Linked DNA regions of Homo sapiens. The protein of the gene in region 4 interacts with the protein of the main gene of each other region in a pairwise test. Each region holds a gene or a part of one and is shown on either strand. Other genes may lie near its edges.

Region 1 (3,500 bases), on a different chromosome or scaffold from region 4:
CACCACTCCTATTCAACAGAGTGTTGGAAGTTCTGGCCAGGGCAATCAGGCAAGAGAAAGAAATAAAGGGTATTCAATTAGGAAAAGAGGAAGTCAAATTGTTCCTGTTTGCAGATGACATGATTGTATATTTAGAAAACCCTATCCTCTCAGCCCAAAATCTCCTTAAGCTGATAAGCAACTTCAGCAAAGTCTCAGGATACAAAATCAATGTGCGAAAATCACAAGCATTCTTATACACCAATAACAGACAAACAGAGAGCCAAATCATGAGTGAACTCCCATTCACAATTGCTTCAAAGAGAATAAAATGCCTAGGAATCCAACTTACAAGGGACATGAAGGACCTCTTCAAGGAGAACTACAAACCACTGCTCAATGAAATAAAAGAGGACACAAACAAATGGAAGAACATTCCATACTCATGGGTAGGAAGAATCAATATTGTGAAAATGGCCATACTGCACAAGGTAATTTATAGACTCAATGCCATCCCCATCAAGCTACCAATGACTTTCTTCACAGAATTGGAAAAAATTACTTTAAAGTTCATATGGAACCAAAAAAGAGTCTGCATTGCCAAGACAATCCTAAGCCAAAAGAACAAAGCTGGAGGCATCACGCTACCTGACTTCAAACTATAGTACAAGGCTACAGTAACCAAAACAACATGGTACTGGTACCAAAACAGAGATATAGACCAATGGAACAGAACAGAGCCCTCGGAAATAATACCACACATCTACAACCATCTGATCTTTGACAAACCTGAGAAAAACAAGCAATGGGGAAAGGATTCCCTATTTAATAAATGGTGCTGGGAAAACTGGCTAGCCATATGTAGAAAGCTGAAACTGGATCCCTTCCTTACACCTTATACAAAAATTAATTCAAGATGGATTAAAGACTTAAATGTTAGACCTAAAACCATAAACACCCTAGAAGAAAACCTAGGTAATACCATTCAGGACATAGGCATGGGCAAGGACTTCATGACTAAAACACCAAAAGCAATGGCAACAAAAGCCAAAATTGACCAATGGGATGTAATTAAACTAAAGAGCTTCTGCACAGCAAAATAAACTACCATCTGAGTGAACAGGCAACCTACAGAATGGGAGAAAATTTTTACAATCTACCCATCTGACAAAGGGCTAATATCCAGAATCTACAAAGAACTTAAACAAATTTACAAGAAAAAATAAAACAACCCCATCAAAAAGTGGGCGAAGGATATGAACAGACACTTCTCAAAAGAAGACATTTATGCAGCCAACAGATACGTGAAAAAATGCTCATCATCACTGGCCATCAGAGAAATGCAAATCAAAACCACACATCTCATGCCAGTTAGCATGGAGATCATTAAAAAGTCAGGAAACAACAGGTGCTGGAGAGGATGTGGAGAAATAGGAATGCTTTTACACTGTTGGTGGGAATGTAAACTAATTCAACCATTGTGGAAGACAGTGTGGTGATTCCTCAAGGATCCAGAACAAGAAATACCATATGACCCAGCCATCCCATTACTGGGCATATACCCAAAGGATTATAAATCATGCTGCTATAAAGTCACATGCACACATATGTTTATTGCGGCACTATTCACAATAGCAAAGACTTGGAACCAACCCAAATGTCCAACAATGATAGACTGGATTAAGAAAATGTGGCACATATACACCATGGAATACTATGCAGCCATAAAAAATGATGAGCTCATGTCCTTTGTAGGGACATGGATGAAGCTGGAAACCATCATTCTGAGCAAACTATCGCAAGGACAGAAAACCAAACACTGCATATTCTCACTCATAGGTGGGAATTGAACAATGAGAACACTTGGACACAGGGTGGGGAACATCACATACTGGGGCCTGTCATAGGGTGGGGGGTGTGGGGAGGGATACCACTAGGAGATATACCTAATTGAATGACAAATTAATGGGTACAGCACACCAACATGGCACATGTATACATATGCAACAAACCTGCACGTTGTGCGCATGTACCCCATAACTTAAAGTATAATAATAAAATAAATAAATAAATAAACTAGGTATTAAAGGAACACACCTCAAAATAATCAGAGCCATCTATGAAAAACCCACAGCCAACATTATATTGAACAGGGAAAAGCTGGAAGCATTCCTCTTGAAAACTGACACAAGAAAAGGATGCCCTCTTCCACAACTTCTATCCAAGACAATATTGGAAGTCTTGGCCAGAACAATCAGTCAAGAGAAAGAAATGAAGGACATCCAAGTAGGAAGAGAGAAAGTCAAACTATCCCTGTTTGGAGAAAACATGATTCTATATCTAGAAAACTCCAGAGCCTCATCCCAAAAACTCCTTAAGTTAATAAACAACTTCGGCAAAATTTTAGGACACAAAATCAACATACAAAAATCACTAGCACTCCTATACACCAACAACAGCCAAGCTGAGAGTAAAATCAGGAACACAATCCCATTTACAACTGTCACAAAAAGAATAAGATACCTAGGAATACAGCTAACCAGGGAGATGAAAGATCTCTACAATGAGAATTACAAAACACTGCTTAAGGAAATCAGAGATAACACAAGCAAATGAAAAAACATTACATGCTCATGGATACGAAAAATCAATATCTTTACAGTCACCATACTGCCCAAAGCAATGTACAGATTCAATGCTATTCCTATCAAATTGCCAGTGACACTCTTCACAGAACTAGAAAAAAATACTTTAAAATTCAATGGTACCCAAAAAGAGCCTGAATAGTCAAGGCAATTCTAAGCAAAAGAACAAAGCTGGAGGCATCATGTTACCTGCCTTCAAACTATACTACAGGGCTACAGTAACCAAAACAGTACAGTACTGGTACAAAAACAGACACATAGACCAATGGAATAGAATAGGGAGCTCAGAAATAAGGCTACACACCTATAATTATGTGATCTTCAACAAAGTTGACAAAAATAAGCAATGGGGAAAGGTGCTGGGATAACCTGCTAGCCATATGCTAGCCATATATCTTACACCAGATATAAAAATCAACTCAAGATAGATAAAAGACTTAAATGTAAAACCCAAAACTATAAACACCCTGGAAGACAACCAAGGCAACACTATTCTAAACATAGGAATGGGCAAAGATTTCATGACAAAGACACCAAAAGCAATCACAACAAAAGCAAAAATTGACAAATGGTATCTAATTAAACGTAAGAGCTTCCGCAGAGCAAAAGAAAGCATCAACAGAGTAAAAAGACTATCTAAAGAATGGGAAAGAAATATTTGCAAACTATGCATCTGACAAAGGTCCAATATGCACCATCTATAAGAAACTTTAATTTACAAGAAAAAAAGCAAAGAACCCCATTAAAAAGTGGGCAAAGGACATGAACAGACACTTCTCAAAAGAAGACATACACATGGCCAATAACCATATGAAAAAAAAGCTCAACATCACTATCATTAGAGAAATGCAAATCAAAACCACAATGAAATATCAT
Region 2 (3,500 bases), on a different chromosome or scaffold from region 4:
TCACCTGGAGGGCGTGTAGCTCCGGGGCGCGGACCAAGAACTGCATGTTGGTGACTGAACCGCGGTTCCGGCTGCCGCCCCCGCGAAGATGGAGTCAAAGAGGAAGGAGCGAGGGCGCTCACGGCCAGACCGCGGGCAGCGCGTCACGTCACTCCTGAAATTTTATTTCGGAAACAATTATTGAGAAGAGTGGCTTTGGCTTCACTGTTTTGCAAATCTCTTTAATTGATGGCTTCTTAGAAGAGCCGTTTTCGGCCGGGCGCGGTGGCTCACGCCTGGAATCCCAGCACTTTGGGAGGCCGAGGCGGGTGGATCACGAGGTCAGGAGATCGAGACCATCCTGGCTAACACGGTGAAACCCCGTCTCTACTACAAAAATACAAAAAATTAGCCGGGCGAGGTGGCGGGCGCCTGAAGTCCCAGCTACTCGGGAGGCTGAGGCAGGAGAATGGCGGGAACCCGGGAGGCGGAGCTTGCAGGGAGCCGAGATCGCGCCACCGCACTCCAGCCTGGGTGACAGAGCGAGACTCCGTCTCAAAAAAAAAAAAAGAGGAGCTGTTTTCCCTTATTTGCTTCCCCATTCCTTCTGTTGCATGTGTTTTGTCCCAGCTGTAGTCCCAGCTACTCCGGAAGCTGAGGTGGGAGGATCGCTGGAGCCTGGGAGTTCCAGAGGCTGCAGTGAGCCGTGGTCACGCCACTGTACTCTAGACTGGGCAACAGAGCAAGACCCTGTCTCTCAAAGGGAAAGTATTTTAATAACTTTTTCAGATACTTGTGGTTTTTTTCTGTAATTCTATCAACGAACCTCTTTCGCACTCTGTTACCTCACTCTAGTCCTGAAGTTCCTTCAGTAATTAGCGCGATGCCTTTAGAGCACTGTTTTCCCCTGAATGACTCGTAAGTGAGTGCTGTTCCTTGTAATTAATTTTCAGCCTATTGCTCAAGATTGTCAGAAGACCTGAGGGAAACCCGCTGGTCTTAGAACACTGGCCTAACTCTGTCTTTTCCCCAAGCAGGCAGCTGCCAGAAATTTGTTGGATTTGAGGAGTCCAGAGCGCCGACCCGCTCTGTCTGCGTGGACTTATTTCCTTGGATCTTCGTGGACTCTGAAGTTGCCAAGTGTGTGTGCCTGCTCCAGAAAACAAAGGAAGCCACCATTTTTTCTCATTCACAGTGCAGGGAGATACCTCAGTAGAAGCATACAGTCCAGTCTTCAACTAGGGACCCCTACCAGGATGTCCAAAAGGCTCAGCCCTCAGTTACAGCACAACATCACAGAAGATGCCTATTGTGAAACACACCTGGAACCAACACGGCTGTTCTGTGATGTTGACCAAATCACACTCTGCAGCAAATGCTTCCAGTCCCAGGAGCACAAACATCACATGGTGTGTGGGATACAAGAGGCTGCTGAGAATTACAGGGTAAGAGTCACTCACGCAAATCCCAAAACACTCTGGCCAACTCCTATATGGATGAAATGGACAGACATTCTGGTCCTCCAAAACCATTACCTTAGTTGATGTTTATTACAGAATATTAGATAAGTTCGTTGAACCTTCAACCTAAAGGCTAAGAAAATATATACTCAGAGTTGTTGGCTGTTTAAGGTCAGGAATCCAACTGTTCTAAATCAATGATCTCACCTGGAATTCTGTGCTTTCTCTATAGAAGTTATTCCAGGAAATATTGAACACATCGAGGGAGAAACTTGAAGCAGCTAAAAGCATATTGACTGATGAGCAAGAAAGAATGGCGATGATTCAGGTCAGTGAGTGCTTATCTTGATTCTTGGGGGGAAATTACCAGTAATGTTGTTAGAAAATAGTGTATCATAAACAAAGTCAAAAGACAAATCACAAAGCAGGAAAAATGTGAAATCTATAGGAAGGAAAAGTGCTAATATCTTAATGTATAAAAAGCTCTTTAAAGTCAGTAAGAAGCTGGGTGTGGTGGCTCACGCCTGTAATCCCAGCACTTTGGGAAGCTGAGGAGGGCGGATCACTTGAGGTCAGGAGTTTGAGACCAGCCTGGCCAACATGGTGAAACCCCATCTCTACTAAAAATACAAAAATTAGCTGGGTGTGGTTGCACGAGCCTGTAATCCCAGCTACTCGGGAGGCTGAGGCAGGAGAATCGCTTGAACTGGGAGGCAGAGGTTGCAGTGAGCCGAGATCACACTACTGGACTCCAGCCTAGGCCACAGAGCAAGACTCCATCTCAAAAAAAATAAAAATAAAAAAAGTCAGTAAGGAAAAGACTAGAAATTTAATTTTAAAAAACGATCAAATAAGAGTTTGCAGAAAAGAAAGTAAATATATTTTAAATACATTGAAAGAATTTGAACTTTGTTCGTGGTAAGAGAAATACAAATTATATGGTGAGTAAAATGGCATTTGCAATGCTATTTGCAATGATCAAAAAGATTAACGACACCGTTTATAACAATGACATAGGAGAATGAGCATCTCTTGTACTTCTGGTTGCCACATAAATTCTAAAACCCTTTAAAGAGCAATTTGAGAATAGCTATTCAGATTTGAGGGTTCACCACCTGTTAGGCATATTTCACTTCTAATTTCAGCCTGTATCTTCATACTTAATCCTATTCTGTGCAAGGTATCCCCGATTCTGGGTCTTTTCTCTCCCTCAATTTTTAAAGGAAATAAATGCCTACTTAGGGAAGATAGTGGAGGAGAATTGCCTGGCTAGGTAAGGATTTTTCAACCGATCCCCCTTCTTTTTCAGTTCCAAGTACCATGTGTTCAGCAAATACTGAGATCCCACTGTTTGCCAGGGACTATGCAAGGTGCTAGGGGCTCACCAATGGAAAACAAAAAAAACCAGCTCTGCTTTCGTGGAACTTGCATTCTAGTGGATATAAACAAAATAAGTTTAATATATAGTATGTTACCTGGGAAGTGTTTAAAAAAATTTTTTTTAAGTGAGAAAGGAAGCAATGGAGTGAGCTTGTAAATAAAGTGATCAGAACCTTGTTATTCAGAAGGTGGCACTGAAGGAGGTGGGGGATTGGGCCATGCAGTTTTCTTGGGGAGGAATATTCTAGGCAGAGGAAAGGCCTGGAGGCTGCCGTGTATGTGGCTGGAGCTGTGTAAGGAAACGGGGGCTGTAGGTGATGAGATCAGAAGAAGGCGGTCAGTCATTTAGGGTGGCAGCCTTCAATGAAATACAAGCTTCAAAACCACTGGAAGGTTTCGAACAGAAGGCTGACATGATTTAACTTCCATTTTCATAGAAACACGCTAGCTGCCAAATGAAAATAGACATTAAGATAGTAAAAGCAGGCTGGTCGTGGTGGCTCATGCCTGTAATCCCAGCACTTTGGGAGGCCGAGGCGGGCGGATCACGAGGTCAGGAGATCGAGACCATCCTGGCTAACACGGTGAAACCCCGTCTCTACTAAAAAATCGGGTGTGGTGGCAGGTGCCTGTAGTCCCAGCTACTCAGGTGACTGAGGCAGGAGAATGGCATGAACTTTG
Region 3 (3,500 bases), on a different chromosome or scaffold from region 4:
AATGGCTCAAAGAACACTTTTCAAACCTCATTTAATGCTGGAAAGTTAATAAAACCATCATGAGATGTAAAAATATTAATTTTCTTTAACTTACCTGCCTCGTACTCCCAAGTACAGATGACAACAGCAGGAAGAGGTAATTAACACTCAAAAGCTTGAAAAGTAAATGTGGTCATTTGAAAAATGGACAGGAACACAGCATAATATGGGGAGTATTCCCGCATATACTCTTCCTTACTCTAATTTACTCTGGCCTGACTCAGAACATCAGTTCTGTAAAAACACTCTCGACTAGCTGGAAATGAGTTCTTTCTTACTGGGTGCCCACTATGTGGAAGGCATGATGGCGGACTCCGAATGAGGAAGGCATGGTTCTCACCCAATCAGAGCTCACAGCCCTGCAGTGTTTAGGCTAGCATGCAAAAACAATTAATTATGCAAGACAAAATAACATGAAATTCAAATAAAAGAGCAACTGCAGCAAAACCACCCCCAGGGTACGGAGGCAGGAGTACCCACAGCTGTGGGGAGAGGAGGGCCTAGGAGTTGAGGGGTTCAGCAGCTCAGTCTCTCTGACTTTCTCCTGCGTGTGTCTTGCCCCTCTCATCCTCCCCCAAGACAAACCACAGGATCCAGAACTTCTCTTCCCCAGTGCAGGTGACAGGAACCAGAACCCCTTTCCCCAAAGCCAGCCATAAAACCTAAAAATACTACTCTCTAGCCTTCCCCATGCCTTTCTGTATAACAGCTGGCCATAAAGACCTTGGACAATGAGACCCTCATTCCAGAGGGTCCTACCCCATTCCTGGAAGGAAGAAATGCTACAACAGAGAGGCCAAGAAGAACCTGAGGAGACAGGCCTTGCTGGGCTTCCCTACTCGGTCTATTTCCATCAGCTCACACCCTTTTTTCCAAATGAATTTCCACATGGCGGTCTGTGCTTCTTCACATCTAAGCAAAATCTGGAGAGTTCACCCTGGGTCTCTGGGTCTTCATTCTGAAAGCTCCTATGTCATTTAAAACTATGATTGAACACGTTTTGCTTTTCTATTGTTAATCTTTGTCATTGGGGTGTCAGCCATGACCCTTATGACAGGGTAGAGAGGGATCACCCCCTTTCTGCCCCTACAGAGTGAATCAGAAGGTTCTGAGCACCGTTCTGCTGATGGAATTCACACGTGGAACTTAGGTCTCCTGTCAGCCCAAAGCCCCCTCCCTTCAGCGCTGAGGAAAGAGGGGCCTGCTGGGTCTAGACCTGATGGGTCTGCCTCGGTGTATAAGAGCAGCAGAAACACACCTCGGGGATTGGCACCTGGTCTTACTCTGCCAAAAATGCCTGGGGATCTGCTCTGATCCTGCGACTGCTGCTGCATCACAAAGTGAGGCTGACAGAACAAAGGTCCCCAGCAAACATGTCCATGCCCTAATCCCTGGAACTTTTGACTATGGCACCTCGCACGGCAAAGGGACTTTGCACATGTGATTAATTAGGGAAGCTGAGATGAGATCATCCTGGGCAATCTACACGGGCCCTGAATCCAATGGCAAATATCCTTATGAGGGACAGAAGACAGACACCGAGGAGGGGGCCATGTGAAGACACAGCAGAGCCGGGAGGTGTGCGACCACTTGCCGCAGAACGCCTGGAGCCGCCAGAAGCTGAAAAAGGTAGGGAAGGACTTTCCATACAGCCTTTGGAGGGAGGGCAGCCCTGACAGCACCTTGATTTCTGGTTTTGGATTCTGTGAGCAGAGAATAAATTTTTGTTGTCTTAAGCTTCCCAGTTTGTGGTAATTTGCTATGGAAGCCCTAGCAAATGAACACAGTTACTAAGTAACTCTTCTGTGTCAAGTCAGGATAGCAAAGGCTGCCTTGGCTTAGGCAGAATAAAACAGCCAGGGCTCACAAGTGATGGAAGAACTGCCAGGGGGAAGCTATGAAATCTGCACCCTGTAGATCTGACTGTTAAGATGTTCTCAAGGTAGTAGGATCTCATTTCAGCCTGCCCAAAGAAACTTTCACCTGTTGGCCCAGTCTACAGTTACAAGACTAAAGGCAAAAGGAACTGTGTATATTCATAAAAACCGGGCTCTCGTTGTTTAAGTGGTTCCCATAGGGCGAGATGGCAATTCCAACACTGTGATACACACATATGTACTGAACAAGTAGGCAAATGTGCCACAGGCAATGGGAGCCACGTTTCTCACTGTTGGAATGGGAGGTGAGAGACAGCAGGGAAAACGCAAGAGTGATCCACGGGGTAAAGGATTAGGGCTGGAGACACCAGTGTGGACTCACAGAAACAAATGGTTCCATACAGAAGTATTTAGTGATATGTGTATATACACAGGTCAGTACACACAGACATTTCCTTGCTCCATCAGCTGAGAGGACCTAAAAGCAATGCCACCACAGTCGAAATGAGCACACCAGCATCCAGCTTGTGGTTTCTAACACCATCTCCAACAGAGGGGACCAGGGTTCCCCAGAGAAACGGCTGAACCTAAGACTGAAGCAGGAAATACACAAGATCAATCTAGGGCATCTAGCAATATTGGAAAGCAAGGAAGTGCTCAAAAATAAACAAACCCACCAGCCCACAAAGATGGGACAAGTTGAAAGGACACAAGAGACAATGGAACAGGCTCCCAATGGCCAAAGCAGGAACAACTGGAGAACAAAATAAGGAGTATTGGATTAGAACCTAAAGTATAATATAAGTATCTGTGAGTCCATAATGATATAAATGGCTGAGTAAATAAATGCAAGAAAACAGATAACCCTCCTGCACGGAAGAATTCCAAATAACATATGTAGACACTTTCCCCTTAAGGAGATGAAGCCTAAATAACTCCTCCCTTCAGAAGTGCAGGCTGCTCACTGTGACTTCCTTTCAGAGCACAGTATGAAGGGAGGGGGAAAGTGTGACTTTACAGTGGAGAAACCTGCCAATCACTATTTCAGTCAGGTAATCAAGATCAACAGCAAAAGAGAGAAGTCATGTAGACAGTATGTGTGCTTGATACGATGTAGCAAAAATGACACTTTATCTCCATGGTCTTCCTCCCAATCCCCACACCCCTGTGGCAGTGACTCTGTGGGGTGAGGGCTAAAGCAAATAATAAATTATGCTGGGTTGTTCTGAACTGAGATTTCTGGAGTGGAAGAAAGGGGTATGGATATAAGTTCTATGACATTAAGCAAAAACGTTGTAGTCCAGAAAAAGACTTGGATGTTACCAGTATGCGCTCATGAAATATTTTATCTTGAACAATGGTTTTCCCTGTCTCTGTCTGTTGAAATGGCTTAAAAACAACTGCCAATCCAACAGCAATGAGCACCTTATTAGGGCCAGATTATGGCCTTTAAGTACCATTTTTCACTTTAAAACAGCTAACCAGGGCTCCTTGGAGAAACAGCTGATTTCAGATTTGGGGCAATAAATCTGACCATAACTTCCTCTTACTGTTGGGAGGAACTTCAAAACTTATGATGACCTA
Region 4 (2,521 bases):
GGAGCCACCGCCCCCGACCCTCTCTCACTTCTCAAATCTCTTTCCTTTTTCCACCTTCTAGGTGTCAAAGACAGTGGATGGTCTCTGAGGTTCAAAACCAAGCTGACCGGGTAAGTATTTACAGCAAAGCATCCAATGGGCTGCTGCGGGGATGACTTGTAAGACAACACGCTTCCTCGCTACAGGAAGCTGCTGTCCCTAATGCCAAAGAAACCGCCGCTGACGCCATCCCCCAAGGAGAACACCTGCTCCTGGTCCAGGCCCCACTCCCCCTCGTCCTGGTCCTCGGGTTCCGCCTCTGCCCCACTCCGGGCGTTCTCATACAGAAACACCTGCTCGTCCACGTGCGCGGGAGCCAGCCGGTTCCTCTTGGCGCTGACCACGTTGGCGGCGGATCCGAAGAGACGCTCAGGGGCGACGCGCGTGGCCGTCACGCACCAGTACTTCTGCAGCACCTTGGGCAGCAGGGGGAAGAGGGCCAGGCGGTCTGACCACCACTTGAGGGGGTCTTCGTTGAGGCCAAGCACCTTCTGGGACTTGAAGTTGCTCAGCTCCTCCACCACCTGGGCATGCCACTCTTCCTGGTCCTCCACGCCGCCTGTCTGGCAGAAGATCTCGGCCAGCATGTTGTTGATGACGCTGGCGGGCGGCGGCGTGGATGTCCGCATGAGCTTCTTGACGGGAGGCTCCTCGGGCACCGGGAAGATCTTGTCCTCAGCCGGCCGGTAGCCGCCGTCTTTGACCTTGTCCAGCAGGCCCTTGGCCTCTTCCACCACGCGATTCTCCACCTGCTGCCGCTCGAAGGCGGAGAGGAAGGGCAGCCTCTTGTAGCGGGGGTCCAGGAAGGTGGCCACGTTGAGAAACATGTCGATCTCGGGCGTCTCCTGGTAGGTCTTGGAAAGCTCCTTGGCGATGACCTCCTTGGCCATGCTGAGCTCCTTGGAGTCGGTCTCCTTGATGTTGAGCGTGGTGTTCAGGAGCATGTGCAGCAGCGGCTTCACCATGCTGATGGTGGGGTACCTGGAGGCCGACAGCATCTCGGCCACCTGCTTGAAGGGCTGCAGGAGCTCCACCAGCCCCTCGATGGTGGCCCACTCGCTGGCCTCCAGCATGAGGTGGTGGTTGTTGCTGTCCTCCACCAAGACCCCGGCGATGACGAACTGCTGCTCCTTGAGGCGCTGCAGCATGGCCAGCGTGCTCCCCCACCAGGAGACGCGGTTGCTCACCAGCATGCAGTGGGCCACGTTCTGCTGCTTCTGCTTCTCATAGAGCATGTACATGGCCACGGCAGACTGCTGGAAGTACTCCACCAGTTTGCGGCAGCGCGACAGCAGCGCCCCCAGCTTCGGGAGCTGGAAGGCCTGCTGGATGCCGGCATTGAAGGTGTGGCCCAGGCAGGGCATGTGCACTGCGACGTCCAGCAGGGAGCACGCCTTCACGATGTCCTTGCCATAGTTGGTGGTGGCCCCGAAGACCTTGGCGCTGATGCCCCACTCGATGAAGACCTCATAGAGCACTCGCGTGATGGTCTCCGCCGTGTTCTCTTCGGGCACCTCGAAGGTCTTCAGGCAGCGGGAGCCCATGGACAGGCAGTTGGGGGCGCCCAGGCCCAGGAAGTGGGCGGCCAGCGTGACGTAGGCGCGGTTCTGATTCTCACTCCTCCACATGTCGGTGGAGATGCCACACCAGGTGGCCTCGGCCAGCTCCTTCAGGATCACCTCCCGGACGGCCCCGTACTTCTCAGGGATGGCCTTGGTAGAGATGTACTTCCGGCTGGGCAGCTCATACCGGGGGTCGGCCGTCTTCAGCAGCACCTTGAAGGTGGGCTCGTCCACGATGGAGGCTGGGTACAGCCCCTCGCAGATGAGGCCCAGCACGGCGGCCGTCAGCTCCTGCTGCTTCTTGCTGTCGTAGCCGTGGCCGGCCTTGACGGCCAGCGCGTCCTGCCCGGGCTGCTGGGACGACTCGGGCTTCAGCTTGGAGAAGGCGGTGGCGAAGGCTTCACGCATCTGCTCCGTGTTGCTCTTGACGAACTCGCAGAATTCCTCGGGGTGGTTCTTCTCCAGGTGGTAGGACAGGTTGGAGGTGTTTCCGGAGTAGGCGATCTGGGCCATGCAGATGCGGCAGTAGATTTTCTTCCACTGCAGGATGCATCCCTCGGCGTTGGTGTCGAAGCCGAAATACTTCCACACCTTGCTCTTGGCGCGGGGGTGGGCCACCAGCTTCAGGTCTGTCTGGGAGCTCTCCAGGCTTTTATTCTCCATTGCTTCTCCACCGGAGCCTGCCTGCTGGACGGCTGCTCATGCGTGGGGACCTGCTGAGAAGGGCCAAGACAAACACAGCATGAGAAGGGACCCAGGCACGCACGGGAGCCCTGCCGGGGAGACAGACAGGGTGCCGGGGCAGCTCCGCTTTCAACCAAAGGGCACTGGGGCCGGACGGCTGGACCTTCCTTGCGGGTCACTTTTGCAGAGTGGAGGAGGGAACCTAGCGCAGGAATACGCTCTTTCTTCCACGTTAA
Region 5 (3,500 bases), on a different chromosome or scaffold from region 4:
AAACTCATCTTTTTACCACCAAATATCAGAAGTGATATCCTGTCCCTTCTGCTGTATTCTATTCATTAGAAGCTAGTCATTAGGTCCCACCTACACCCAGAGAGTGAACCACCAGGAAGTGAGATTATTGGGAACCATCTTAGAGGCTGCCTACCACATGCAAAATACGTCCCCCCTACTCCTCAGATCCTCAAAAGTTTCACTTTTGCATTACAACATCAGCTCAAAGTTCAGAATCTCATAATTGGAATCAAGTCAGGGTGATATCATAACTGGAATCACCCCAGGCTTCCTCAGGAGGTAGTTCTTTAAGTACAGTTCCTGGAACACAGTTGCTTTCCATCTGTAGACCCATGAAACTAGAGAAAAGTTATCTGCCTTCTACTCACAGCATAAAATTATGGATAAGGCATAACCATAACCATCACCATAACATTCTGTCCACAAAGCTGGGAAATGGGAGACATAAAGGAGTCACTAAGTCTAGCCCATGCTCAAGGGGAGGAAATTATGCAAGGTCTGAAACTAGGAGGTGGGGCCACCTTAGAGGCTGCCTACCACACTGCCCTTCTATTTGATTGTAATAATAAAAGGAGTAAAACTTTTGATAAATATTTTATGAGACTTCAGGTGGGGCTGATACCTAACATATATGGATGGCATTGCTGCTTGTATTGCTAGTTTTTTCCTTTGGCTCAGAGTAAAAATTCTTTTTGATTACAAGAATATCAGAGGAAATTGTTTAACAATTCTATTTCTCTTTATCATGGCTATAGATCTGATCATTGACTATTAGGTTGGTTTGTTTCCCAAAAATTTCCAAAATATTTTCCTAAAGTTTAATACAACATTTGTTATAGCTCCATGCTTATTCATGTGGCTGCCTTCTATATTTCTTCTTCAATTTATCAATACATCTTATATTTGCATAAAATTCAAACTACATCCCTTGGTGAAACATAATGTCTCTACTTTGAACATGGGAGATTTTCTACTTTCTTTTTCATACTATTGACTAGAGAAATAACTTCCCCTTCCCTTTATGCTGCTTTCTGAAGTCCTGCTAGAATACTCCTTATTGTCCTTCCTTTTTCTATCAGTCTATGGTTCTCAACCAACAACAGTTTTGCTCTTCGGGGGACATTTGGCAATGTCTGGAAACATTTTTGGTTGTCACAACAGGAGGGTGCTACTGGCATCTAGTGTGCAGAGGCCAGGGATGCTGCTCAGTAAGCTGTAATGCACAGGGCAGCCTCCGTACAACAAAGAATTATGGGGCTCAGAATGTCAATAATGCCAAAGTTGAGAAACCCCAGTGTAAAACAAACCAGTCCTTCTTCCCACTTTAAAAATGAAGACATTACAATGTTGCTTTAGCCTTGGTTACTATATAAATCTACTTTTTCCCCCCAAAAGCAAACATTTCCCCAAAATAACAAAAATGTGGAGTTGTGATATAAACTACAAATTGCAGGCAAACCAGGTTCTACTCAATTACCTAACCACTGAAGAATATAGCTTGAGATAAAGGGCATGGAGAAAAGTGAAATTTTACTAAATGTGCAGTTTGAATACTTCTTTTGATTGAGCAATATATACTGAATGTTTTGTGACACTTTGAGATCTAGTTTTATACTTTAAGCATATGTAATTACTGCTAACTGGAAAATATCTAAAATATGTATATCCAAACTAGAGCATGGATTAGGAGTCTTTTTTATTTGTTTGCTCTCAAAATGATGCCAACATAACAAAAATTTAGAACAATGTACAGCAGCCAGTATAGAATCCCTAAGATAACTATAATATTTTTAAATAAATAATGCTTCATATTTTTATTGTTTCATGGCATTTCCATTCACGAATCACCTTTTTTCCTAAATAAGTGTATCTATAATTTTATGAGTCATTTGTCCAAATATGTAGAACAGGGCTTTGGGAGAAAACAAATACACTCACAATTTTTCTCAATTGCCAACAGACTAGTTTATTTGTTTCTCTTGTAATACGAACATGCTATTCTCTTAGTTTTTATCTTCAATAACATATGAAAGATCCAAAATCAAATTGGCTGTCTCTACAGCCACCTGTAGGCCACTAAGCTTTGCAGTCAAACAGTCCAAGGTCAGGTTGCTGGCTGAGCCCACAGCTTCATGTGGAAGGCAGCTTTGTGGCACAAATGGACGACGTGTGCTTCTTAAGAAAGACCAGTTGAGTTCTTCCTGGCTATTGTATAATCCACAGCCACACTGTGAAAGCAAATCTGGCCAGTTAGCAACACAGGGAGAATCTGCCTGAACTGACCAAAGGTGTCCATACTTCATGTCAGTGAGAATTTCACCTCCATCATGTTCTAAAGAGCCAACAACAGATTCTAGGGCACTGCAAAATGCTTCAGCAATTAATTGAAGTTCTGTTTGAGTACATTCATCATCTTTGAGAATGCTTTCTGGGTCGTTGTGAGTCTAAAGAGTAATAAAAACATTGAAAACACATACAAAGCAATTAATATAAAATGTTTCAGAAAAATAAGATACTGAAATCAAAATCTTATTCCTAAAGTAATTACTTACTTTCATTTAATTTGGGGTCTGGCACAATGCTAACGGGCTTGTATGGGTCAGCCGGCCGGGTTGCAAACCCTTAACTAGGTTGGTTATAGTAAAAATGTATTAAAAATGTATATACTACCAGTCATGTTACCAGAATGAGTGAATCAGAATAACCCCACCATCAGCTTATTCTGAATGAGGCTTGGTAGTGCCTCCTTAATACATGAAGGACTAGGCATAATACATGTATTACAGGTTTTTCTGCACACAGGAGGAAGTTCCTGAAGACTGATGTCCCAAATGGAGTACTTATTTATCTCTGCAAAATGTTTGAGATTTGCTTAAAATGGGAATGCACATATTTTTATTTGGAAATCATGATGTAAATTTTCATATCAATGTTTTAAAAATGAATATTCTTCTCTTTAAATTAATGAAAAGGTAATAAGACCTTAAACAGTCTTCTGGTTCCACTATTTAAAAATGTTTATCCTAGAAATTCCATGATAAAAAGAAAAATTAATATATAGCCATGCACCACATACCAACACTTCAGTCAATGATAGACTGCATATACAACAGTGGTCCCATAAGATTATAAGGCCATATTTTTACTAACCTTTTCTGTGTGTTGATATGTTTAGATACATAAATACCATTGTGTTACAATTACCTACAGTATTCAGTACAGTAATATGCTGTAAGGGTTTGTAGCCTAGGAGCAATAGGCTATACCACATAGCTTAGGAGTGTGGTAGGCTCTACCATGTAGGTTTGTGCAAGTACACTCTATATTGTTTGCACAACAATATTGTCTAATGATGCATTTCTCAGAATATATCTTTGTTAAGCAACATGTCTGTATTAGCAAACTAATAACTGAATGATGGGTTAAAAAATCCATATCTTAACTGCTTAAAAACAGTGACTACTTTCCTACTCAAGACA
Region 6 (3,500 bases), on a different chromosome or scaffold from region 4:
AAATATATCCACCATTTAAAATCATTCCTATAATAATTTCAAAACAAAAAGTTAAAAGAAAATATGCCTACAGTGTTTCTACCTTAGATCAAATAACATCTATTCTCAAAAGGTCAATTTATTAATAATTACCATAGCCTTTCTCTACTGCTTAGGTCACTTCTGCTTTACCAAAACATACAGAACACTAAGGGGTTACAAGTCATAATGCGTCAATACTCTCTGTATTAACTGTCTTACCCAGATCACAGGTCCATCTCCAGGTCTCGCCTGTTGTTTCCAGATAGGTATCTACAAAATACAATACATTTCGTAAGCCATACCTTTAGTTAAACCACTACTAAATTATTTTCCTTTTTTTTTTTTTGAGACGGGATTTTTTTTTTTTTTTTTTGAGACAGAGTCCTGCTCTGTCACCCAGGCTGGAGTGCAGTGGCACAATCTGGGCTTACTGCAACCTCCACCTCCCGGGTTCAAGCAATTCTCCTGCCTCAGTTTCCCAAGTAGCTGGGATTACAGGCGTGTGCCACCACACCCAGCTAATTTTTTATTTTTATTTTTTGATGAAGGGTTTTGACACAAGGTTTCATCATGTTGGCCAGGCTGGTCTCGAACTCCTGATCTCAAGTGATCTGCCCACCTCAGCCTCCCAAAGTGCTGGGATTATAGGCGTGAGCCACCGCACCTGGCCAAGACAGGATCTTGTGATGCTGCCCTGGCTGGAGTGCAGTGGCTACTCACAGGTGCCATCATAGTATACTGCAGCCTTGAACTCTTGGCTTCAAGAGATCTGCCCGCCTCAGCCGCCTCACAAGTAGCTGGGACTACAGGCACGTGTCACTGTACCTGGCTACTACTATTTAAAGCAATACATACATGAGAAATAAAATATTTTTAAGCATGCAAAAATCAAGGTGAAGGAATGAATGAAGAGGAAGAAATCGAAATCCTTCTAAGTATCCCCAACAATGAAAGCTCTCAAGAGCACTAGTTATTGTATGATGGTCTTTGGAGAGTGAAAAGGGATCTGAACTAGGAATCAGAAGTCCTGGCAGGTATCAAATCTTGCTCTCCCATTTAATTATTCATAGGGCCACCCTAAGTCTTAATCTCTTCATCTATAAAATGAAGAAACTTGTCCAAATATTGCCTGCTTCACAGGGCTTCCATTGGGATCAAATGAGATGATGCCTGCAAATGTGTTTTACAAAATATGAAGGGCTTACTTTTTCTAATTCTTCATGTAAGTTGACTGTAGTTCTATTTAAACTCCAGAGACAAATCCTTACTTTAAAACTGAGAGTATGCGTCTCTAAGCAATTTTTAAAAAGTCTACATCTTCCATCTTGAATTTAAAAAAAGAAAAAAAAATGGCCAGGCACAGTGGCTCATGCTGGTAATCCCACCACATTGGGAGGCCAAGGCAGACAGGTCACCTGAGGTTAGGAGTTCGAGACCAGACTGGCCAACATGGAGAAAGCCTGTCTCTACTGAAAATACAAAAATTAGCCGGCCATCGTGGTGGGACACCTGTAGTCCCAGCTACTTGGGAGCCTGAGACACAAAAATCACTTGAACCTGGGAGGCAGAGGTTGCAGTGAGCCGAGATCACACCATTGTGCTATAGCCTGGGCAACAGAGTGAGACTCCGTACCAAAAAATAAAAGAAAAAACAAACAAACAAACAAAAAAAAACAGGTCTACATTGATACCTAAAGAAAAGGGACTTTATCTGCGTAGACCATCACATATTTCCTTACCTAAAGTAAGGGACTAAGCTGGGCATGGTGGCTCACACCTGTACTCCCAGCACTTTGGGGGGCTGAGGTGGGAGGATCACTTGAGGCCAGGAGTTCGAGACCAGCCTGGCCAACATAGCAAAACCCCATCTCTACTAAAAAATACAAAAATTAGCTGGGCGTGGTGGCACATGCCTGTAGTCTCAGCTACTTGGGAGGCTGAGGCAGGAGAATCGCTTGAACCCGGGAGGTGGAGGTTGCAGTGAGCCAAGAATCACGCCACTGCACTCCAGCCTGGGCGACAGAAGGGACTCAACTCTTCTAACTCAATCGTGCCTTGTAAGGAAAAAAATCTCATTCAAAAGCAAGCTTTTAAATGTTGCTGTATTTAATAAAGCACACTTCAGAAGAGTACTACACCCATGCTATATTTAGCTTTTTTTTTTTTAATTTAGCTTCTAATGTCATCCTAAATCTCTTGTTTTCTTTCTGCAATCACTCACCAACTTACCATCTTCCTCTCATTAGATATGAAGACAGCATAACATTCTTCTAAAGGATACTGGTCATGGTTTTTGATGTATTCACAGAGCTTCCAAATATTTTCTTCACTGAAATAAAATAATTGTTTAATCAAGATTAGAGAACATTCTATGTGTCTTTTAAATTTGAACAAAATACTGATGATGACATCAAAAAGTTGGAAAAGACCTTAAACCCCATGTCATCCAACAACTGGCTAATGTCTGAATCTCCTCTAAAACATCCCAACAAGCTGGTATTCAACCTATACTGTGTGTAAACCCCTCTCCACACAGAGCTAATTACCTCCCCTAGCAGTGCTTGTACATGGAGGCATTTTATAACTGATAAAATATGTCAATATTCTATGAGTTTTGGGCCCAGCAACTTGTAATACAGCTGAAATTCTAACTCAGCCACTTACAAGGTAAGAACCTTTGACAAAGGCCAGGCGTGGTGGCTCAGGCCAGTAATCCCAGCACTTTGGGAGGCCGAGGCGGGCGGATCACGAGGTCAGGAGTTCGAGACCAGCCTGGCAGAGAGACCAGCCTGACCAATATGGTGAAACCCCGTCTCTACTAAAAATACTAAAATTAGCCAGGCATGGTGGCGGGTGCCTGTAATCCCGGCTACTTGGGAGGCTGAGGCAGGAGAATTGCTCGAACCTGAGAGACAGAAGTTGCAGTGAGCCAAAGATCACACCACTGCACTCTAGCCTGGACAACAGAGCAAGACTCCAACTCAAAAAAAAAAAAAAAAAAAAAAGCTTTGACCATCTTGACTTCTCCAAGAATCTGCTTTTCTCATGTGTAAAATGGGCATAATCATATACTGTAAACACACAAAAATCTTAGTTAACACTGGTTCCCTGCTCTCTTTAGAAATGGGGCAGGATGGGTGTTTTGGGTTGAAAGCCTCCTGGCTGGAAAGAATCAGGAGCAATTATGTGATATGTCCGGGAACTCATTTGGGGGAATCCCTGTGAGTGGGATTCCCCATGCCCCTCTAGTAAGAAAGGGACATAATTTTATTTTTTTTATTTATTTATTTTTGGAGACAGAGTCTTACTTCACTGCCCAGGATGGAGTGCAGTGGTGTGATCTCGGCTCACTGCAACCTCCACTTCTCAGGTTCAAGTGATTGTCATGCCTCAGCCTCCTGAGTAGCTGGGATTACAGGCGTGCAGCACCACACCCAGCTAACTTTTGTATTTTTAGTAGAGATGGTGTTTCACCATGT
Region 7 (3,500 bases), on a different chromosome or scaffold from region 4:
TTGATTGTTTCCAAAAATTGAACTGAATTCTACCCTTAAGAGATGAGGATTTGGCGCTGGCACGGTGGCTCACATGCCTGTTATCACAGTACTTTGAGGCCAAGGCAGGAAGATTCCTTGAGACCAGGAGTTCAAGTTCAGACTGGGCAACATAGCAAGACTCCCATCTCTACAAAACATTAAAAACTTATCCAGGCATGGTAATGCACGCCTAGAGTTTCAGCTACTCAGGAGGCTGAAATGAGAAGATCACTAGAACCCAAGAGTTTAAAGCTGCAGTGAGCTATGATCATGCCACTAATGCTCCAACCTGGGTGACAGGATCAGACCCTCTCTCTAAAAAAGCAAAGAAAAAAGATGAGATAGGCCAGGCATGGTGGCTCATGCCTGTAATCCCAGCACTTTAGGATGCTGAGGCTGGCTGATCACTTAAGCTCAGGAGTTTGAGACCAGCCTGGGCAACATGGCAAAACCCGGTCTCTACAAAAAATACAAAAATTAGCCGGGCATGATGGTGCACATCTGTAGTCCCAGCTACTCCAGAGACTGAGGCAGGAGGATAGCTTGAGCCTGGGAGAGGGAGGTTGCAATGAGCCGAGATCACACTACTGCACTTCAGTCTGGGCAACAGACCAAGACTCTGTCTCAAAAAAAAAAAACAACAGATGAGATAAGAGATAAAGTTTTGTCACCAACGAGGCTATACACAGTATAGTTACAGAAGCTTCAAGATGCAGGAGACCTTAGAAATAACCTAGGCCAGGGCAGTCCAATACAGCAGTCACCAACCACATAAGGCCATTTAAATTGTTAAAATATAATAAAATTAATAATTCTGTTCATCAGTCTCACCAGCCATATTTCTAATGCTCAGTAGCCACATGTGGCGAATGGCCACCGTATCGAATAGCACAGATACAGAATATTTTCATCATCACAGAAAGTCCTAGAGGACAGTGCATTCGTCTAGAGAAATGGGTCTCAGTTGAGAAATGGGTCTACATTGAGAGCATATGTGTGAAACCAAATCTTTCAAAATCACATGACTTTCTCCCACATGGCTGTCTTGGAGAGTTATGTGGATTCTAGCTCAGGTGCTGATTGCAGGAGATCCAGAGGTGAGGCCCCAGGACTGCAAGAAGGATACACAGGCATGAGTTTCAGCTCATCCCTATGATTAAGTCAGGAAAAGCCTCCAGAATGGATGGCCGGCAACCAACATGTGTTGTTGAGATGGTACACCCCAGACTGTACTGATGTTGTACTCTTGTTCTGTTACTTATCTGTCCTGCCCAGGTTGCAAGAATAGGACACCACCCTATTCTAAAACCTCTCTAGCTTCCAGGGAGGTTTTATCTTGTAATTTATAAAGTTTTCCTACTGAACATCAAACAATGGTGGTGGGAGGCGAGGTGTGTGTGACCTTTCCCATTTAGTCAACTTGGGAAGCAGTCACCCTTATCAAGGAAAGAAGACCTGGAAGGTGGACCTCAGAGAGAAGGGAGAAAACCATCCTCCTTCACTGTGTGAGTTTGGCCTGGAGCACCTCCAGGAGAAGTGGGTAAAGAAGACTTGGAGGAGACCTGGGAGGGACCTCAAGGCCATAGCTTGCCTGGGAGCTCTGAGAATAGCGACATCTAGAAGTACTTGTAAGTTATTCTTCTGGCCTAGAATTCTTTGGGGGGTTTTTCCCCACCTCTTTGTCCTCAACTCTTCAGAAAGATCTTGTTGAAATTACAGCTTGGTCTCAGCAGTGTTTGGGGACGGTTCCATAAGCCCGGAGTGGTGGTAGCAGCAGTTACTGGTGGAGGACACAGGGCCTGCAGCAGGTGCTGATCTCTCCAGGGGCAATGGCAACACACAAGCAACTGGGGGCCCAGTGAGGAGACCAGGACAGAACCTGAAGGACCTGCTGTAGCACACCTGAGAAGCCACATCTTAGGGACTGAAAGCCACCAAGCGACATTGACTTCCATGACACCACAATCTCCTCGTCCTCCTGGCTTTGTGGTTGCTTCTTCTCAGCGTCTCTCACTGGTTCTTCTTCCCTCTCCTCCGGAAGTGCACGCATTTTCCAGGCACTCTCTTTACCTCTTCTCTCTCTACACTCTCTTCCTTGGTAATGTTGATCCTTTCCAGGGCTTCAGCCACCAACTCCACCTATGCCCCTAGCCCATGCCCCCTCCTGAGTTCCAGCCCTCAGAGACCACCTGACCATGGAATCTCTTCATTTGAAAGACCTGCAAGCACTTCAAGCCCAATGTGTCCAGACTCATCATCACCTTCCTCTTCTTCACCCTCCATGTCCAATTACTGCCAAATTCAGTCAAGTCTACCCATGCAATTTAACCTCCTATTTCCATTATGAGTTCCCTATTTCAAAACTGCACCGGCTTTGACTGGAAAACTGAAGTCCCCTCTGAAGTGGTCAGTCAAGCCCCCTTCCAACCTGTCCTATTTGATGCTAACAGGATTATGGTCCTAAATTATATATTATAGGTATGAGCATGTCTGCCCCTTCTCTAAACACCGTAATAAATGGATTTCTTCAAATCCCATTTTGTGTCCTCCTGCACCCATTTTCAGTGCACAAAAAATTCTCTAAACTCCTTTGAACTCTCCAGCCCTATACTTTGCTACAGCCCATTCAGTCAATCCCCCAAGTCACACTTCCTCCATGTTACTTGACATCCTCAGTCAATTTCACCTTCTCCTTCCCTACACACAAGGTGGGTGGCTGCAGCTCTACAGTGCATTTCCTGCAGGCTGCCTGGTACTGCAGGCGCTTGCAGGAGGGTCCAGCTCCTCATTAGACCACCAGGGCAGTGTGATACCACACAGAACACCCACCCAAAGGCTAACAAGATCATGGCTGTCACATCTCCCACAGGGCCATGAAATATAGACCTTGCTGAGCGTTTCAAGTGGCTTTGAGGGAGGTTTATCATTTAATTTATAAAGTTTGCCTACTGTACATCAAACAGAATGAGAAGATCACCAATGCTAACTCAGTGACCTGGAATTTAGAGTCTGCCAGAGCCTGACACCAAAGTCATGGACTCTACCCTTGGATTGCCCCTGCCAGGAGGAGGGCAGGAGATGAATGCATCAGCAGGTGAATCAGGGGAGAAGAGCCATAATGCAAAAAATTGAAAAAAAATCTATAAAAAGTACAAAAAATACAACTTTGGACACGGGTCTCAGCTGTGGAAAGCTGAAAGCCAGCAGTAGTTGACTAGAGATACTGCAGCATGTGGTTGATTTGACAAAATAGCTAATTTGACTGAGGGCACAGTTTAAGTTGCAGGAGGTTTAAAAAAAGAGGCGGACATCATCACCCATGCTACCTTCCCCCAGAACACACTGACACTGTCACTACCACCAGAGGCAAAAGCACAGGGAGAAAAGCAGAGGGACTGTTTGAACGAATAAAGGGAAGGTTGAACCCACTATCATTTTGCACCCACTAAGAATTGAGACAGCAGAATTAAAACTGCCAA

What was found.
Region 1: the proteins of ZBED1 (region 4) and EFHC1 interact in binary tests that used the Homo sapiens proteins (3 or more experiments, as listed by UniProt).
Region 2: the proteins of ZBED1 (region 4) and TRIML2 interact in binary tests that used the Homo sapiens proteins (3 or more experiments, as listed by UniProt).
Region 3: the proteins of ZBED1 (region 4) and GGACT interact in binary tests that used the Homo sapiens proteins (3 or more experiments, as listed by UniProt).
Region 5: the proteins of ZBED1 (region 4) and MKKS interact in binary tests that used the Homo sapiens proteins (3 or more experiments, as listed by UniProt).
Region 6: the proteins of ZBED1 (region 4) and NTAQ1 interact in binary tests that used the Homo sapiens proteins (3 or more experiments, as listed by UniProt).
Region 7: the proteins of ZBED1 (region 4) and FAM124B interact in binary tests that used the Homo sapiens proteins (3 or more experiments, as listed by UniProt).

Annotation. Positions count from the first base shown.
Region 1 is NC_000006.12:52,440,842-52,444,341, reverse strand, and holds part of EFHC1 (EF-hand domain-containing protein 1), read right to left. Parts: intron 1-3,500. UniProt on the Homo sapiens protein: Microtubule inner protein (MIP) part of the dynein-decorated doublet microtubules (DMTs) in cilia axoneme, which is required for motile cilia beating.
Region 2 is NC_000004.12:188,103,104-188,106,603, reverse strand, and holds part of TRIML2 (probable E3 ubiquitin-protein ligase TRIML2), read left to right. Parts: intron 1-593; exon of another isoform or gene 594-1,013; 5' UTR 1,014-1,235; coding exon 1,236-1,424; intron 1,425-1,671; coding exon 1,672-1,767; intron 1,768-3,500.
Region 3 is NC_000013.11:100,578,790-100,582,289, forward strand, and holds part of GGACT (gamma-glutamylaminecyclotransferase), read right to left. Parts: intron 1-3,500. UniProt on the Homo sapiens protein: Contributes to degradation of proteins cross-linked by transglutaminases by degrading the cross-link between a lysine and a glutamic acid residue. Catalyzes the formation of 5-oxo-L-proline from L-gamma-glutamyl-L-epsilon-lysine.
Region 4 is NC_000023.11:2,488,456-2,490,976, forward strand, and holds part of ZBED1 (E3 SUMO-protein ligase ZBED1), read right to left. Parts: intron 2,318-2,521; 5' UTR 2,265-2,317; coding exon 180-2,264; 3' UTR 1-179.
Region 5 is NC_000020.11:10,403,223-10,406,722, forward strand, and holds part of MKKS (molecular chaperone MKKS), read right to left. Parts: intron 2,466-3,500; coding exon 2,025-2,465; 3' UTR 1-2,024. UniProt on the Homo sapiens protein: Probable molecular chaperone that assists the folding of proteins upon ATP hydrolysis. Plays a role in the assembly of BBSome, a complex involved in ciliogenesis regulating transports vesicles to the cilia.
Region 6 is NC_000008.11:123,426,774-123,430,273, reverse strand, and holds part of NTAQ1 (protein N-terminal glutamine amidohydrolase), read right to left. Parts: intron 2,351-3,500; coding exon 2,251-2,350; intron 292-2,250; coding exon 241-291; intron 1-240. UniProt on the Homo sapiens protein: Mediates the side-chain deamidation of N-terminal glutamine residues to glutamate, an important step in N-end rule pathway of protein degradation.
Region 7 is NC_000002.12:224,392,108-224,395,607, forward strand, and holds part of FAM124B (protein FAM124B), read right to left. Parts: intron 1-3,500.